Linked DNA regions of Homo sapiens. The protein of the gene in region 1 purifies or fractionates together with the protein of each later gene. This does not show direct contact. Each region holds a gene or a part of one and is shown on either strand. Other genes may lie near its edges. The genes, in order: SLC10A2, PODXL2, CNNM4, CNNM1 and FAM234A.

Region 1 (3,672 bases):
TCCAAAACTTTTTATTCTTCTGGATTAAGAACTGGATAACTAAAGTCTCCTGATAATTTACTTAGATACAATCCTATCTAACATTTATATTTCCAGTTGTGTACACTTAGAATTTTACCTTCTCCATCTCCACTTGAACTCCAGCAATGGCATGAAGACATGACTGTTTATGTTAACAGGCAGCTACACTAATTGAGCTAATGCCACACAATGCCAGCAAAACCATTCCACCTGGTTTTAACTCTCTTGGTTATGGTTCTTGGGAGAAGAAACCAAAACATTTCTCTCTCACTCTGTCATCTCTTATGAACCTGGAAAGCCACCGCATTTTGCAATCTCTAGTGACTTTGAAAAACAAAAAAAAAATAGACAATAGTCCTTGATCATTGGAATCCAGCAAGTACTATTTCAGCTCCTTCTCTGACCACTCCCAGCCTGGAGTTTGTGAATCTGATTGGTGCACATATATTTTCACCTAAGTTGCAGCTGTGCCATGGACATCACATGCACAAAAAGCATCAGGGAGAAGAGATGGTGACTTTTCAGGTGAATCTGCTTGTGGCCAAAACCCATAGTTGAGAGGACACAGAAACATCCTATCTCCTTTTTGTCTGCTCTCTCCCCAGACACAGGCAAATATCCGGTGTCTTCATCCTTCTTAATGGCCTCAGCGACACCATGCAAGGACTTCTCATTTCCTTTCTTTGGCTTCCTCTTTGGGGAATCCATTCTTATGCATCCTTCTCCCAGTTGCCCCCAGTTCCTTCCCTGCCACCTACTTTCTACATTCCTTTTTATTATTTTACAGACTTTCCTACCACATCCTTTGTTCTTTGGGCAAATGCTGTTAGATTTTTCAGCTTCCAGTGCAGCATTCATTGATATTTTAGATATTCAAGAAATCTCACCCTGTAGCTTACCACAAATTCACAGCAATCAATCCTTCCTATGTCAACCCCATAAATGTCCTTCTCTTCTCTACTCTGGGAGACCTAACCCAAAACCATTCGGCTTTTTCCTTTATTCTCCCTAAAAGTAACCAAACATTGTTTCTCTCCAGTAGCACTGATTTTACTAGCTAATATTTATTAAACACTAGTATATGCCATGCACAGTGCTAAGTACTCAAAATAAGTTGGTATATTTCATCCTCCCAAGAATCCTCTAAAGTTAGTACTATTATTTTCTGCATTTGGCAGATAATGAAGTTAAGATTCATAACCTTGACCAAGGTCATTGAGTCAATGTATGCCTGAGTCAGAATTGGAATCACCCAGGTCTACCCACTACCACTTTGCAGGCTCATAAGCTTTCTCTACACTGCTTCTATCACTTTTCACTTCTCCAGTTTCTAGCACTGCCTATATACGCTACGTTAGAGCCTTCAAACTTGGTATTTTACTTCTAATATGATTACAATCTTTTACATTGCTTAACACTGATTTCACTGAATTCCTCAACATTCACTAAATTTACATTTATTCTTTCTTTTATTTCCATACACACAAAAGAAAATCTCCCTGGCAGTTAATAGAGCTGAAGTCAAAATTAAGACCAAGATTTTTTTTTTATTTTTCTTATACTTGACTCTTTTCTGTCAGTCTAATATAAATTCAAGGCAGTGTATGTATTTTTTATATACATGCCTTTTATAGAACTTCAGATTTTTTCGTGTAAGATAATATTTTCTTTTGCTAATTTAGGCTTCTATATTATTTCTTAAAATTCGTTATCTGTGAATTGTTTTAAATCTCATTTTGAGTGGTTTGATTTTGTTCTTATATTCATTCAAATAGCATCAACTTCCAGCTACCTATTCGTCTGTTCATCTGCAAGGTCTCTTCGTCAGTGCTGCTCACAAGTCTAAACCTTTCCTTCTCCAAACCCTCTTTTGTCCCTCATCACGATCCTTAAGAAACTGCTCTCACCAAACTCAAAATTATGATACAACGTCATAGATTGTCTTAGCAATATTCAGAATTAAAGGTTTTGCAAGGATCTTTGAAAAAAAAACAAAGACAGAAAAAGACTTCCTTCTTAAACATTTTCTCACATTTTAAAACAAAAATTCTCAGACTTCTCTTCACTGGAACCCAGTTAATAAATCCTCCTCACTTCCCCACCAGATTCCCACCACACTCTAGAAAAAAATATTGGATGCACAGAAAAAAAAGTGATTTTATTATAGGGACAACTTTAAATCCATTCTAATATATTTTTTAAAATAAAATAAAAAAAAAGAGAACACTGAAAGAAGAGAGGAAGGAACAGAGAAAAAAATTACCTTCAAACTCCAGTACTTTCATTATAAGTAGGACAAAGTACTATTAATAACAAATTAACTTGTTTGTCTGGTGTACAATTCTGCCTTAGCATCTATTTCATGCCTAAATTTACCTATAACCAGAATAGATTGAACTGCTTAAAGTTTTAAATACATCCACATTATTTGTTACTGTTGTAATATTTTAGCTCTACTAAAACAAGTATTTTTATCTAAATTATTTAAGCCTATTTTAAATGAGGTCATTCTGGTTAAAAATAAATATATTATTAGAGAAGTTAAGCTCTCTGATGAACTTTGTCCCACCCTGTATTTTGCCAAACTGTGCAAATTTAACTGTGCCTTGAAACAAAATTTCTCATTGTTAGCTCCTTTCTTAGTATAGTGTGTTGTTGTTGTTGTTGTTTTGGGGGGCAGGTAATATAAATATTTAACATTTTCTTTCAAGTACACCCATAATACCCTTAAGAAATTACTACTCTTGACAACCTCAATGACGACCTGTTGAGAGAAGGGCCTTTCAGAGAAATTTCTCATTTCTCTAAGTTTCCCGATTCTATTTGGTGGAACACAAGATACAAAAACATGGTAACATAAATGATCACAGCAGAGAGATGCAGGGTGCGGTGGCTCCCGCCTGTAATCCCAGCACTTTGGAAGGCCTAGGCGAGCGGATCACCTGAGCCCAGGAGTTTGAGACCAGCCTGGACAACATGGTGAAACCCCATCTCTACAAAAAATTTAAAAATTAGCCTGGCATGGTGGCTCATGCCTGTATTCCCAGCTACTCGGGAGGCTGAGGTGCAAAGATCACTTGAGCCCAGGCTTCAGTGAGCCAAGTTGGTGACCCTGTACTCTGGCCTGGGTGACAGAGAGAGACCCTATTTAAAAAAAAAAAAAAAAAAAAAATGGTAGTAGCAACCAGCTCTTAATAGAGTGCTTTGCATTGGTCTAAGTGCCGGACACCATTGGCTCATTCTATCCTTACAGCCATTTTAGATAAGGAAACTGGTAAAGAGAAGTCAACTAAATTACTCAAATTAACACACTAAGTGGCACCGCCTGCTTTCAGCCCAGACAGTGTGTGGCTTTAGAGCTCAGGCTTTAAAGGCAGAGAATGTACGCTGTGTACAGATCCCTTTGAAGAGGACCCGGAAGACTCACTCCCCAAAAATCTTTCTTTGACCCACTGTCCTAGTACTAGAGATAGCATCATTTGGCATTAATGTCTCCATGTAGATAGCCTACTCAGCCAGACCCTCTTATTAAAATGCAAACACTCTGAGCAGGGATGATACCAGACACTAGTTCTTCTGAACACACATTTGCCAAATTGCCAATAACTTACTCAGTGCTAAGAATTTATGTCTACCCTGCCGCTTGCATGC
Region 2 (3,672 bases), on another chromosome or scaffold:
AGTGGTTTCAGATTCTCAGTTCTTAAGATCTGATCCCTGGACAGAAGCATCACCTGGGAACTTGCTAGAAATGCAAATTGTTGGGCCCCGTCACAGACCAGCTGGATTCAGAACTCTAGGGTGGGCTTAACAGTCTCTGTTTTAACAAGCCCTCATGGTGATTCCATGCTGGTTCAAGTTTGAAAGCACTGGATTAAAACGGTAGCCATTTATTTAGCTCATGATTCTGTAGTTTGGCAATTTAGGCTGCAGTCAGCTGGGTGGTTCTGGTCTCAGCTGAACTCCTTCAAGTTTGTCATCAGCTGTTTATCACCTTTGCTGGTCTTGTCTGGCTCTCTCACTTTGGGACTTCAGCTAGGACACTGAGCTGATCTGGCTCTCTTCTGCATGGGCTCCTGTTTTCCTGCAGGCTAGCCTTGAGCAGAATCCTGAGAGAATGGAAGCGTGCAAGGTATCTTGATGCCTAGCCTTGGAAATGGCACATCATCACTTCTGCATTGTCTTGTGTAGCAACTCACAAAGGTAGCTCAGATTCAAGGAGTGGAGAATTAGATTTCATCTCTTGATGGGAGGAGCTACAAAGTCTCATTGCAAAGATGTGTGTTATTAATTGGGAGTCATTGGATAACCCCTCTCAGGAAGAACCTTAAGAAGGTACTGTTTTGGGGTAGGACAGGGCACTCTGTTTCTTTCCCATCTACCTAGTAGGGGATAGATACTGCTTTCTTCTATAATATTCGGGCTAGGAAAAAATCCAAGAGTAGCTTAGGGTCCCCCCGTGATGTGAAGGGGAATTAGAGTGGAAGAGGTCATGGGAAAGTCTTGAGCTAGAGAGAGTACAAGTCCTTAATTCATCCTCTCCCAGGAACAAAGGGGAACTTCAAGGGGAGTGGACCCCAAATTGATTGTCTTGGCTTTCTCTGCCTTTTAAATACCTTTGGCTCAAAGAAACCACAAAATATGAGATGGCTGTTTCTCTCTTTGAGTCAGGGATTCAGACACAGGCTCTGGGAACATGACTTCAGCTTCGTGGAGCCAGGCCCTGCCTGGAAGCAGAATCTTTGTCCGTGGACATGGTGCCTAGGACAGCAGAAGACATTCCGGATGGGGTGTGATAGCTTCCTGGTTTGGACTTGGCAGAAGGCAATCCCCTGTGAGCAGTCCTCAGGAGCACTGGCAACACAGCAGTGCCATTGGCTCCCACCTGCCCAGGGTCACAGCTTGCCCACCCTTTAGGTATTTTTTTATTTTTATTTTTTTGAGACAGAGTCTCACTCTGTCGCCCAGGCTGGAGTGCAATGGCACCATCTTGGTTCACTGCAATCTCTGCCTCCCGGGTTCAAGCAATTCTCCTGCCTTAGCCTACCAAGTAGCTGGAGACTACATGCGTGTGCCACCATGCCCAGCTAGTTTTTGTGTTTTAGGAGAGACTAGTTTTGCCACATTGGCCAGGCCTGTCTCGACCTCTTGACCTCAAGTGATCCGCCCGCCTCGGCCTCCCAAAGTGCTGGGATTTACAGGTGTGAGCCACCACACCCAGCCCCATCCTCTAGTTATGATGATACTTTCTAAAGCTGAGAGTTGGGCCTGTGAATTATCTTATTGAGAGACAGAGCTTCACGGGATCTTAGAGGTTGGCACAGACGTTTACTAGCCCTGGTCAGATGCTAAGGCTCTGATGCCTCCTTAGCCCCGGCGTTGGCTTTGAGGCCATGTAGAATCACTCTGATATTCTTATTCACATCAACCTTTTGTTTTAATGTATTTGAAGATACCATGGTCTCTTTTAAATATTTTTTTCCCCGGGCCATGAACTTCACAGGTCTCTGTTTTTTATATAGGATAATAACACAATATTTGTAGAATAGTTTGGTTTGTAAAGCTCTTTGTAGAGCAGCTTTCACACATGGCTCACCAATTACCTCATTTGGTGCCCCTCACACTGGAGGCATGGTAGGAATTGGTGTCCTTATTACACAGAGGAGGAGAGCAAGGCTGGTGGTGGTGAAGTCACTCAGCCAGAGAAGCCAGAGTGTAACCTATTTCCTGGTACCAGGCTTTCTCTCCTGTTATATAGAACATCTTCCTGTCTCTGACCTCAGGGCGTCTCTCTTACCCTGGAGTCTCTACTTCCCATCCCCCATCCACACAACCCAGAATACACCCCTGTGGCTGGATGTGGCATTATTGGCTGTGAGTTGTCTGGCTGCTGCACAGTGTGCACAGACTCCCTCATACGGAGACTCACAGGACAGTCTGAAATGCTCATTTTTTTCAGTGGCCAGTCACAGTATTGGCACGTATCAAGCTTAGGGCCTGCTCAGCAAAGCACATGGCACCAATAATATTAGCCCTATTTTTATTATAAGCATCACTAAAAATTGCCATGTACTGTAGTCAAGTCAGGTCACAGTACACATCTGGTGTAGAGCAAGAGGAAGACTGTGAAATTCCCTCTTCCCTAGATCCTTAAGTGTTAGTCTTGGAAAAGAATTCAGAGGTCATTTCATTTAGCTTCCTTGTCTATCTGGTGAGGAGACTGAGACCCAGAGGTCTTGAGCAGCTTTCCAGGAGCCTCACAGCAAGTTAGTAATTTGTGTGGTTAGGTCATTAAGTTAGAGGTTAAGTTGTGAAACTGGCAAATAGGGCTATATTCCTGTCCTTAAAGAATGAGAGTGAAAGAAGAGGAAAAAGGCCTCCTTTAATTTGTTTTCCTGTCCATTTATTTGCTTGTTTTGGTAAATTAGGAGAGAGAGAGAATCCAAGATTCTAAACAAATATGTCAAATTACCAGCACTGGGTTGAGTTTGAACTGTGACCTCACGTGGTTTTTTAAAAGACTACGTTCAGAGGCTGGGCTCAGTGGCGCACGCCTGTAATGCCAGCACTTTGGGAGGCCTAGGAGGGCAGATCACTTGAGGTCACGAGTTCAAAACCAGCCTGACCAACATGGCGAAACCCTGTCTGTACTAAAAATACAAAAATTAGCCAGGCGTGGTGGTGGGCACCTGTAATGCCAGCTACTTGGGGGGCTGAGGCAGGAGAATCACTTGAACCTGGGAGGCGGAGATTGCAGTGAGCCAAGATTGCACCACTGTACTCCAGCCTGGGCGACAGAGCAAGACTCCATCTCAAAAAAAATAAAAAATAAAAAAACTAAAGACTATGTTCAGGATACTGTATTGCTGAAATACAAATGATATTCATAATGCAGTTTTGGAGAAATTTCAGCCAAGGATGGAAGCCTGGGGAACACTGTGTTCGTCCAATCATACTGCTAGGTCCTTAAAAGCATGGGCCCTGTCTTCACTTCAGTTTGTAGCTCCAACACCCAGTACAATTGCCAACAGAGAGAGGGTACTCAGGAGGCATTTTCTGAGTGACCACATGCGCAGTGGAACACTGACTCAGTGATTCCTCTCTCTCCCCTGCCTGTCTCCATCTGTCTCCCCTTGCCCCTGCCATAGGGAAGTCTAAGCAATTTGGCCTTTTTGAAATGAAAATAGTGTCTCAGAATCCCCGCAAAGCCTCTGGGTTTTCAGGAGTGTCCACTGAAGTCCCCCCTTCCCCAGGACCTTTGTCATTTGAGACATGCTCTAACCTGGCACCAGTCTTGTGTCTTCTCTAGCCTCCCCTGACTGTCTGGCTTTTATGTCTGCACAGGAGCGTTCC
Region 3 (3,672 bases), on another chromosome or scaffold:
AACCTTGGCCCTTCCGCTTAAACCTCGCCTGGAACTGTTTGCAGTACTGGGTGTTGTGGGTGGGTTTGTCCACCTTGGAATCTCAGAACAAAGCCACCTCCAGCTCCTCCTGCCCCAGTTTGTGTTTTGCCTTCACCACTCTCCCAGACCCTGAAGCTAAGTAATGAAGGAAGAGGGCAGAGCTCTGCACCCCCCTTGCAGCCCACCTTCCAGCTTCTAGCTGTGCCTCACCCTCTGGGACACTCCTTCCCTCCCAGGTACTTAGCTCATCTTTAAACACCTTATCTTTCCCCACCCACCTTATAACCACCTAGACCCTGTATAGACCTGGGTGTAACTCCAGCCAGCCTGGTCACTGACCTGTGAGGTGGCCTTGGACCTGTTACTCCTCCTCTCAGCAAGGTAGTGCAGTATAAATTGGTGGGGAAAAGCTAGAAATATTTTCATTAAAAAAATCCTCCTGGCTGTGGCTCACGCCTGTAATCCTAGCACTTTGGGAGCTCTTTGGGTGGGTCACTTGAGGCTAGGAGTTCGAGACCAGCCTGGCCAACATGGCAAAACCCCATCTTTACTAAAAAAATGCAAAAATTAGCTGGGTATGATGGCACATGCCTATAATCCCAGCTACTGGGGTGGCTGAGGCAGGAGAATCGCTTGAACGGAGGTTGCAGTGAGCTGAGATTGCACCACTGCACTCCAGCCTGGGCGATAGAGCAAGACTCTGTCTCAAAAAACAAAACAAAACGAAACAACAACAACAACAAAACACCCATATTTTCATCTAGGCTGTGTCAGATTTTCCCACTGACTTAATTTTATTCCCGCAACAACTTTATGAAGTTGAGAAAAAACACTGCATGATTTTTGCATTCACTTTTGGTTCCTCTTATCTGACACACCTTAAGTAACTTATCCTCCACACCCCACCCTCCCATCCGCACCTGCTTATTCATCCATTTGTTCAACCAACAGTGACCGTTTTGAAGCCTCTGTGTCAGACACTGTGCAGGCTGTTGGGAATCAGAGATGAATAAAACTGCCCTGTTCACAGAACTCACAGTCTACCAAGGAGAGAGACACGTGAACAACGCCTAGCTGCACAGAGCTCACAGATAGGGTGCCGTGGGGCTGAGGGAGGGCAGGCCTGTGAGATGCTTCTGAAGTGAGAGTAACTAGACTCGTTGATCCTTGTGGAGATCTGGGAGTCAGGGCCCGGAAGTAGTTGTGAAAGTCTGAGGTTTCTAGCTTGGGATTCAGGTTGATTATGTCATTTAACTGCAATCGGGAAAGGGGGACGAAGAGACAGTTTAGTGAGGGCAGAGGGAGGTAAGTGGTGGTCATAATAATGGTGTGACCCGTTGCTGAGCTCCTTCTCCGTGCCCAGCATTGTTTACACTGGAGCTTCTCACACTCGACTGCCTGGACATTTTGTTGAAATGCAGACTTGAACTCAGTGGGTCTGGGTGTGGCCCGAGAGTCTGCATTTCTGACAGGTTCTCAGATGATGCCCATGCTGCTGGCCCTGGACCACACCAGTGTGCAGTAACATCTAGGCAGGCATGCAGGGGAAAATGCCCACGTGAGGCTGAGGAGCAAGGCCAGGACAACGCTAAAAGGTTTAAGAGTCAGCCAAGAGGCCGGGTGCGGTGGCTTACGCCTGTAATCCCAGCACTTTGGGAGGCCGAGGCGGGCGGATCATGAGGTCAGGAGATCGAGACCATCCTGGCTAACACGGTAAAACCCTGTCTCTACTAAAAATACAAAAAATTAGCTGGGTGTGGTGGTGGGCGCCTGTAGTCCCAGCTACTCGGGAGGCTGAGGCAGGAGAATGGTGTGAACCCGGGAGGTGGAGCTTGCAGTGAGCCGAGATCGCGCCACTGCACTCCAGCCTGGGCAACAGAGCGAGACTCCGTCTCAATAAAAAAGGAGTCGGCCAAGAGCAGGCAGAATGGAGAGCTGCTGGGCACAGTGGCTTTGTAATCCCAGCACTTTGGGAGGCTGAGGCAGGTGGATCACCTGAGGTCAGGAGTTCAAGACCAGCCTGACCAACATGGTGAAACCCCGTCTCTACTAAAAATACAAAAATTAGGCGTGGTGGTGGGTGCCTGTAATCCCAGCTACTGCGGAGGCTGAGGCAGGAGAATAGCTTGAATCGGGAGGCGGAGGTTGCAGTGAGCCGAGATCGCGCCATTGCACTCCAGCCTGGGTGACAGAGTGAGACTCTGTCTCAAAAAAAAAAAAAAAAAGAATGTGTGAGAGAGGAAAGGACAGTGCAGGGGGTGTCAGTGTGTAAAAGCCAGGCTGAGGCGACTCCTTGATGGAGACGAAGAGAACCAAGGGGGCACGCTATTCGGGAGCCTCCTTGGAGGGTCAGATGGGGTGAAGACCATGCACAGACTGTGGGATGGGACCTTAGGCTGTGGGGTGCCCAGCGAGAGCAGCCTCGGACAAGTGGTGCCCGAAGGCAGCTTTGCACCGGTTCTCCGTCAGCCCTGCCTGGTAATAGCCTCAATATGGTGATTTGATCTCAAGAAGCTGCCTGGGGGCAGGTGTATCTGAGAGTGACAGGAGCTGGTTAATACTCCGGGTGCAGGCAGAGGTCCCAGCAGGGACAGCTGACAGAGCTGTGGCCAGGCTCCTTCTCACTTTCCCTTTAGTGCAGTGCTGTGGGAAGGGAACATGAGCACGTGGAGGGGCCTGGTGCGTGCCAGCCAGTGGGCAGCTGCACCTCCTTCCTGGCTGGCCCCATGCAGCCTATGGGCGGGTTCCCAAAGAGGAGCCAGCACTGAGAGGACACTCACGTGTCTTCACTTGACAGTTCTCTTCTCAGAGCTCTTGTTTGTGCAATGGAAGGCAATGCTGTGCATCGAGGCCCTGATAGGTTCTTAGTTATTCTGGTGTTTACTTTTCAAAGGTCTCGTATTTTTAACTAGGAAATCCCGCTCCAGTGTTTTTCTGCTCACCTCTGGTCAGGACGGGAAGCACCGAGCAGATGTTTAACCTTGAAAATGGGTGAATACACAGGAGCACAACATCAGGGAATGGCCCTACAGGATCAGCAGGGGGCCCTTGGGAAGGGGAGGCCTGTCTCGTAAGTAAAAGTCTGGGAAGACATTTCAGCGGAATTTGCTAGGGCGGGTAGACATGGCGTTTTCCACTCTGGTACGTGTTGCCCTGGGAGAGCTTGGACAAGACCCGAAGGCTGAGAGGTGAGCCTCACCGTCCTTCGCAGCAGCTTTGGGGGTGTGGCTCAGGCCTCCCGGGCTGCTTCCCCTCCTTTTCTAGACGGACTTGGCGGTGCGGATCCCTGGGTGCCTTCTCTCTGCACCCCTCCCACATGAACCTGGTTGACTGAACAGCAAGGACATCTTTGAGGGGAAGGAAGCCTGGCCCCTCTGAAGGAGTCGCTACTACAGGCCTCCAGTCTCCTTGAGGGCAGGGGCCAGCATGGTTGTCCTGCACTGAGCGCTGGCTCCTGAAAGGCCGCGCAGCCATGGAGAGTGTGTATGGAAAGGCAGCCTGGGCCAGGCCTCTGTCGCTGCCTTGGTGACTGATTTTCGCAGAGCCTCCTGGTTCCTTCTCCCCAGCCCGTGGGGGATGGACAGGCTGTCTCAAAGCCTTCCTGTGGTCTTAGGGATTCTTGGAACTCCTTAGCAGAACTGACTCTGAGAT
Region 4 (3,672 bases), on another chromosome or scaffold:
GTAGCCTCAAGTTCAACTTTGAAGCATAGGTCATCGTGCCAGTATTCCAGCAAACTCATAATCTCACTCCTCATCCTCAAAGGCTGATTAAGCTAGCTTCAAGCATAGGGGGACGGGGCTGGGCCAAGACCCTACAAGATTTTATTGCCTTTTAGCTTAGACTTAAGCTCTCCCTCAACCTATAGGTTGAGGTTCTTGGCCAGTGAAAGATGCTGGGTGGCTGGACCATGGGCTGAGCATTCACCCGGGATAACTGTGGGGTATGGCTGGCCTTTGCAGTTACTTCACACTTCACTACACTAAGTATGGGTTCGGGGAGGATGGAAAATGTCTTTTTACCCCATTGGCTAATAATATTTCTTTTTCCTTCTGAAGATTTACAGAGATGCTCAGTAACATGGGGAGAGAAAGAGAAAGAGTGCTATGTTTCTTTTCAGTTAACTAGTTTTAAAGGAGAAATCAATGTTGCAACTTTATTTCTATCTCACTGATGCAACTGAAAGCTTTTGAAAGAAAGAACTAGAAACAGGAAGGAAGGAAAGGAAGAAATCAGATAACATCTTCCTTCTACTTAAAACAATTTTTTTTTTGAGATGGAATCTTGCTCTGTAGCCAGGCTGGAGTACGGTGGCATGATCTTGGCTCACTGCAACCTCCACCTCCCAAGTTCAAGTGATTCACCTGCCTCAGCCTCCCTAGTAGCTGGGATCAAAGGCACGTGCTACCATGCCTGGCTAATTTTTGTATTTTTAGTAGAGACAAGGTTTCACCATGTTGGCCAGGATGGTCTCGATCTCCTGACCATGTGATCCACCCGTCCTGGCCTCCCAAAGTGCTGGGATTACAGGTGAGAGCCACCATGCCCGGCCACAGCAATTTCTTTTTTTTTTTTTTTAAGAAAGAAGGTCATATAAATTGGGTGGGCTAGGAAGCCATATGTAGGTCTTTTTTTCTCAGAATTTCCACCTCTTTTAGTCTTCTGGAAGAGATCACAGACATTTCTAGGTAACATATTAGAATCCCAGGAGTAGTCCCTAATGTGATGGATGATGGAGATTTCCTTTAGAGAACTAAGGTTTGCCAAAGTCCTGTAGCCCGTCCCTCACCCATCCAGAGTTCTACTGAACACTAATGCTTCCTTCATCAACCTTGATTGAGATTCATTGTCTTAAGTATAATAATGTACCAGGGTCTTTTCAATTTTACAGATCTCCTCCAACTCAAGTTCTGCCACTCTTCACACTGGGCAGGTACTTCATTTCAACCACTGGCTGGGCTATTACACTGTAACAATTACACTGTAAATTGTTCCACTATTTCCACTTAGAAATTGCATTCCAGAATATGATGGATCTGAAATCTGTATTTTATTGTGCTGTGTGAACTAGCCAGGACACCAGGAAGCATCTTGGCCGGTCACCAACTTACTGGGTGATTTGAAGCAAGTCATTTCCTTAGTTTCACTCATGTTAAAATGGTATCTACCTTGCCATGTTCCAGGGACTATGATATCAAGCTCTGGGACCCTCTGATAATTCCCACCACAAGGCAATATGTAAAATCTTTTTTTATGATGAGAGGAAAGACCCTATTTGGCATTGAAGTGGTCACTGTAAACACTAACAGCTGAAAGCAATGCAAAATTCAGAACTGTGAATCAGAAAGAAATCTAGAGAAATAATTCTTTCTGTATCACACTTTTAATCACAAAAAATGCCATGCCCTTTAAGCACAAGTGCAATAACTACACAGAAAACAGCAAGAAGGCACAGCACAGAAAGGGCAGAGCAAACCAGCCATCAGCCCTGTGCCTGCCCCCCACCAACAGCATGCACAGCCAGCTGGCAGATACCTCTCCACTAGCTGAGAGGTGGAGAACCAAGAAAGAGAGGCAGATAAGCAACGTATTGCACAAAGGTGGAACTTACATCCCCAAATCTTGCAGTCACTTCTTACTGAGGACAAACCCCACAGACACAATAATAGCATATGACAGTGTTTGAGTAAAGGCCATGGGTGAATTGTTATTGCACAGAAGGAAGGGCTGAGCCTCTGCCCAAGCACACAAATCACCTGCCTGCATTCACTGGAAGGTGGCAATAAGCAGTGCCTTCCCTCACAACCCCTGCATCCCCCCAACCATGTGAGCAGAGAAGCAGCAGAAAACATTCCAGACACACAGAACCTAAGCTCCCATGGTCTGTGGGTACCTGGCAGGAAGCAGTGTTCCTGGCAGAACATTACAAAGGGGCTGCCAGCATTTGTCTTAGCCCCAGCCCAGGCTCAAAGTGCTCGGTCCAGGTCCCCAGAGCGGGCTGAGGCAGGACTACGATGGGGAGGACGAGGAAGGGGTTTGAGAGATACATACGAAAGACAGAAGATCCAGCCAGACTTCCAACCTTCCGCACGTCATTATCTAAGGACAGAAGCATGCAGTGGGTTTCAGAGGCAACTCAGAAAACACACTTCTTATGGGAATCTTCCCTCTTCTATCCACCCCCAGCACCAATTAACCCTGTAAAAACCAGGCAATTAAATGGAAGGGTAGGGAACAAGTATAAAAAGCAAAATAAACTTGTCTTTTCATACTGAAATCTACCACCCTAGATCCCTAACACTTGACAATATTACTGCTTTTTACAATTCAATTTTTTGTCACTTTTTTTTTAAGCACTAACTGAATGAAAAGTGATTCATACACCCATTTTGCAGAGGAAGGAACTAAAGCCAAGGAAGTTAAATGGCTTGTCCAGGCTGATTAACAAGAGTCAAAGGGGGAGTCAAGACTTGAACCCCTGTGCTTTTTCTACCATATCCCATTACTTTCCCAATAAACAAATGGAAACTAGAATACCTGAGCAAGCAGTGGTCATGATGGCTGGGACGCCATAGTAAGTAAAGGCTCCATTTTCAAAGCGAAGGCCTTCCTTACCAACCTCCACCTCCACTTTACCCTGGAAAAAAAAAAAAGGAAGTGTACTATGAATGTGTATGAGCACTTCCAGTTCTACTATTGACTCGAATCCTAAGCATTTCTGCTTGGATAACAAGTGGACTAGACCCATGTTCTTATCACAGAGGAATGTTAATTCTCTCCAGATTTACATGTGAGAAAGCACCACCAGCTTTAATAGCTCTTTGCAGTAAATTCAGTGCTTCGTTGTTCATAAAATAGCATCCAGTCATGAATAACCAAGCTGTCCTTGCATACTGTAGTGGCCCTTCCATGATGCAGGCCTAAGCACCAGCTAATCCAGGGCCTCATAAACTGCCCCACTGGTTTAGTCCAAGATTGGACCATTTCTAAGTCAGGTCAAGATAAAATCTAGGCCGAGTGCGGTGGCTCACACCTGTAATCCCAGCACTTTGGGAGGCCAAGGTGGGTGGATCACGAAGTCAGGAGTTTGAGACTAGCCTGGCCAATATGGTGAAACCCCATCTCTACTAAACATACAAAAATTAGCTGGGTGTGGTGGTGCATGCCTGTAGTCCTAGCTACTCAGGAGACTGAGGCAGGAGAATCACTTGAACCAGGGAGGCAGAGGTTGCAGTGAGCTGAGATCGGGCCACTGCACTCCAGCCTGGGTGACAGAGCGAGACTCTGTCTCAAAAAAAAAAAAAAAAAAAAAAGATAAAATCTAATTCTGTGTGAAGCTTGTTTAATTCATTGCC
Region 5 (3,672 bases), on another chromosome or scaffold:
GGTGCCCACTACATCCTCTTTCCCTGCGGTACGTTGTTTCTGCCACATCCCTGGCCAGCCTCACTCGTGGAGCATGACTGCCCTGCGGCTCCTCAGGTCCTGCTTCTGCTCTCGAGGTGCTGGAGTCAGGAAGCCCAGGGGCCTGGCTCCATGTGGCACTGCGTGCCCCTGGTCCGGGTTCACAGCGTGACCCTGGTGACCTCGGGCCCTTCTGTGTTTTGAATAGCAAGCTCCCTCTGCGGCTGCTCTGTGAAGGGTCTCTACGAGAAGGTGACCGGGAGCGGCGGCCCGTTCAAGAGTGACCCGCACTGGGAGAGCATGCTCAATGCCACCACCCGCAGGATGCTTTCCCACAGGTGGGTCCGGGCCGCAGCCTTTCTCCATGCAGAGCGCCCACCCCATGGCTCTGCTCGCCTGCCTCAGCGTTCGGACAATCTGTGTGGAGCCCAGAGCAGCCCCACCGGCAGGGAGGTGCTCGGGGTACCGCAAGGTCACCCTGGGCTCAGATGTGAGAAATGGTCAAATAAAAGTTGAGTAAAGAGAAGAAAGGTTCCCGACGCTGTGCCTGTCTGTCTCCACGGAAAGTGGGGGTCTTTCTTCTCTTTTCTGTTTTTTTTTTTTTTGGTTGTTTTTTTTTTTTAAGACGGAGTCTTGCCCTGTCCCCCAGGCTGGAGTGCAGTGGTGCGATCTCGGTTCACTGCAACCTCCGCCTCCCGGGTTCAAGTGATTCTCCTGCCCCAGCCTCCCGAGTAGCTGGGATTACAGGCGCGCACCTCCACGCCCAGCTAATTTTTGCATTTTTAGTAGAGACGGGGTTTCTCCATGTTGGTCAGACTGGTCTCGAACTTCTGACCTCGTGATCCGCCCGCCTCGGCCTCCCAAAGTGCTGGAATTACAGGCATGAGCCACCGCGCCCAGCTCTTCTCTTTTCAAGCTGTAGAACTGAGAAACGGGTTATGGGGGCCTAAGAGGAGCACCCTGAGACGGGCGGTGCCAGAGCCTCCACTGGGTGCCTGAGGCCGCCCCGGGGACCCGGCGCCCCTTTCTCCCACTCTCCTGTCTAGCTCTGGAGCAGTGCGCTACCTGATGCATGTCCCAGGGAACGCCGGTGCAGATGTGCTTCTTGTGGGCTCAGAGGCCTTCGTGCTGCTGGACGGGCAGGAGCTGACGCCTCGCTGGACACCCAAGGCAGCCCATGTCCTGAGGTACAGGGTTTCCCCAAGGACCGCGCAGGTGCTGCACCCCTTCCCGGCATCCCGGGCACATCCCGTTGGCTGGCGAGGAGACAGCGCTGGGGGTGGGGCCGGAGGCCGTGTGCTGCTGCCCGGGCTTCTTGCCTGTCTCTGGTACTTGCCCCTTGCCCCAGACGTCGGCTCCGTGTCCTGGGCCCTGGTCCAGATGTGGCCATGGGAGACTGAGGGGCGGACGTGTTCCTGGGTGCTTCCTTCATCTCAGTCTCCTCACTGAGACCCCTCGTGAGCGCTTCCTCCATATTGTTCCAGAAAACCCATCTTCGGCCGCTACAAACCAGACACCTTGGCTGTAGCCGTTGAAAACGGAACTGGCACCGACAGACAGGTTCGTTGTTCTTCCTTCGGAGGTGGCACCTTTGTTCTTAGCTGAGGATAGACTGGTCTGAAAGCAGACGGGGCTGCGGCCCAGGAGGCTGCTGCCGTCAGAGCTGCTGAGAAGGTTCTGCCTCCCTCAGAGCATCTGCCTCCAGGGCTGGCATGGCTGAGGGCACGTGTGCCTGTGCAAGCCTCGAGCTTTTCCCGGTAGCCCCCACGTTGGCCCCCACAGTGTCCCCTCCCTCCCCAGATCCTGTTTCTGGACCTTGGCACTGGAGCCGTCCTGTGTAGCCTAGCCCTCCCGAGCCTCCCTGGGGGTCCACTGTCCGCCAGCCTGCCGACCGCAGACCACCGCTCAGCCTTCTTCTTCTGGGGCCTCCACGAGCTGGGGAGCACCAGCGAGACGGTACGGGAGCCACCCTCGGAGCAGCCATGCTGGGAGCCGGGGCCAGAGACCCAGGCTGGAGCTCCACCGTGGAGTGCCCAGAAGCTCATCGGTGCCTGGGCAACCTCACATAAGTTGAAGTCCAGTGACAGTCAGGATGAGGTGGTGCAAGCTGAGGCAAAGTGACCTTAGAGGGGTCCAGCGAGAAGGGGCTGATGGCCTTCGGTGGATAGGGGCGCACACAGCCATGCCCTGAAGGGAGTGGCTGCCGGCAAGGACCAGTGTCAGGACCAGGTGGGGTGGGAGGACCTGGGAGGTGGCCACAGAACTGGGGGCTGGCATTTGGGGGACCCAGATAGGGCCCCTAGCAGACATAGAGCTCCAGGCACGGTCACTCTGACAGCAGTGTCCTGTGGGAGTGCTCAGTGAAGGGCGTGGGGCCCATTGCTGGTTCTCGCTCCAGGAGACCGGGGAGGCCCGGCACAGCCTGTACATGTTCCACCCCACCCTGCCGCGCGTGCTGCTGGAGCTGGCCAATGTCTCTACCCACATTGTCGCCTTTGACGGTGAGTGTGGCCTCGGCCAGGGACCCGGGTGTTCCGCGGGGTCTGCCCTGGCTGGTCCTGAGCCGCCCTGACAGCTGTGTCCCCCACCCTGCAGCCGTCCTGTTTGAGCCAAGCCGCCACGCCGCCTACATCCTTCTGACAGGCCCGGCAGACTCAGAGGCACCCGGCCTGGTCTCTGTGATCAAGCACAAGGTGCGGGACCTTGTCCCAAGCAGCAGGGTGGTCCGCCTGGGTGAGGGTGGGCCAGACAGTGACCAAGCCATCAGGGACCGGTTCTCCCGGCTGCGGTACCAGAGTGAGGCGTAGAGGCACGCCAGCCAGAGCCTGTGGAGAGACTCCGCCTGCTGACACTAAACGTCCTGGGAAGTGGGCCCTTCCCTGGGTCTCTGCACTGACTCCCCCACTCCTGACCCTGGTGATGGTCGCCACTGGGCAGCAGCAGCCTTACCAGTCCTCCATGATCACACCCAGGGACCTGCATGGGTGAGGGGACACCCTGGGCCTCTCTCCCGCCCAGCATCCTCCCTGAGTCCCCACACAGGGCCTCACTCTGCACCCCACCAGGGTCCCGCTCACACCAGGCAGCCTTCATAGTGGTCTCCCTGGCCACCTTGGGCAGAGCTGGGTCATGCAGCACCCCATCCTTACCCGGTGCCCTCTCCTTGCCAGCTTCTCCCCAGGCCAGAGCGGCCATCGCGTAGAAAGAACCAGGGTGTCCCCGGGACAGGCCGTCCCCCACCCCATCCTGTAGAAGTCCATTCCCCTTTTCCCTCCTGTGCTCTGTCCCCCAAGGAGTCATGGAACTCAGGGTACTGGGCCTCAACGGGAACCTGAGACAGCTCCAGCTTCGCAGCCCTTCCCGGAGCTACAGGGGGATCCTCTAGCATGGGGGGTGTGACTTGGTTCCTTTGACCAGGTCCTGTGAGGAAGCCTGGAGCAAGGGTCTCCCCCAGCAGGATGGGTGGGGCCTGCTCTGGAGCTGAGCCCGTGGCCGCTCACAGGTGTCCTTAGTGGTGTTGCAGCTGTCTACTGGCTGCATGTGCTGTGAATATCCCAAGGAACTGGCTGTGGAATGCGTGTTTGGGTCAGTCTGTGCCCTCTCAGTAGACACTGGAGCTGCTCTGTCCCTGAAGAGGCCCCGTGCCCCAGGCAT

What was found.
Region 2: the proteins of SLC10A2 (region 1) and PODXL2 purify together in Homo sapiens (affinity purification with mass spectrometry; one large-scale study listed by BioGRID and IntAct). This does not show direct contact.
Region 3: the proteins of SLC10A2 (region 1) and CNNM4 purify together in Homo sapiens (affinity purification with mass spectrometry; one large-scale study listed by BioGRID and IntAct). This does not show direct contact.
Region 4: the proteins of SLC10A2 (region 1) and CNNM1 purify together in Homo sapiens (affinity purification with mass spectrometry; one large-scale study listed by BioGRID and IntAct). This does not show direct contact.
Region 5: the proteins of SLC10A2 (region 1) and FAM234A purify together in Homo sapiens (affinity purification with mass spectrometry; one large-scale study listed by BioGRID and IntAct). This does not show direct contact.

The regions. Positions count from the first base shown.
Region 1 is NC_000013.11:103,059,903-103,063,574, reverse strand, and holds part of SLC10A2 (ileal sodium/bile acid cotransporter), read left to right. Parts: intron 1-3,672. UniProt on the Homo sapiens protein: Plays a critical role in the sodium-dependent reabsorption of bile acids from the lumen of the small intestine. Transports various bile acids, unconjugated or conjugated, such as cholate and taurocholate.
Region 2 is NC_000003.12:127,635,582-127,639,253, forward strand, and holds part of PODXL2 (podocalyxin-like protein 2 precursor), read left to right. Parts: intron 1-3,663; coding exon 3,664-3,672. UniProt on the Homo sapiens protein: Acts as a ligand for vascular selectins. Mediates rapid rolling of leukocytes over vascular surfaces through high affinity divalent cation-dependent interactions with E-, P- and L-selectins.
Region 3 is NC_000002.12:96,767,335-96,771,006, forward strand, and holds part of CNNM4 (metal transporter CNNM4 precursor), read left to right. Parts: intron 1-3,672. UniProt on the Homo sapiens protein: Probable metal transporter. The interaction with the metal ion chaperone COX11 suggests that it may play a role in sensory neuron functions. May play a role in biomineralization and retinal function.
Region 4 is NC_000010.11:99,363,699-99,367,370, reverse strand, and holds part of CNNM1 (metal transporter CNNM1), read right to left. Parts: intron 2,955-3,672; coding exon 2,855-2,954; intron 2,417-2,854; coding exon 2,369-2,416; intron 1-2,368. UniProt on the Homo sapiens protein: Probable metal transporter.
Region 5 is NC_000016.10:262,198-265,869, forward strand, and holds part of FAM234A (protein FAM234A), read left to right. Parts: coding exon 1-28; intron 29-226; coding exon 227-356; intron 357-1,064; coding exon 1,065-1,205; intron 1,206-1,502; coding exon 1,503-1,578; intron 1,579-1,818; coding exon 1,819-1,974; intron 1,975-2,416; coding exon 2,417-2,519; intron 2,520-2,613; coding exon 2,614-2,825; 3' UTR 2,826-3,672.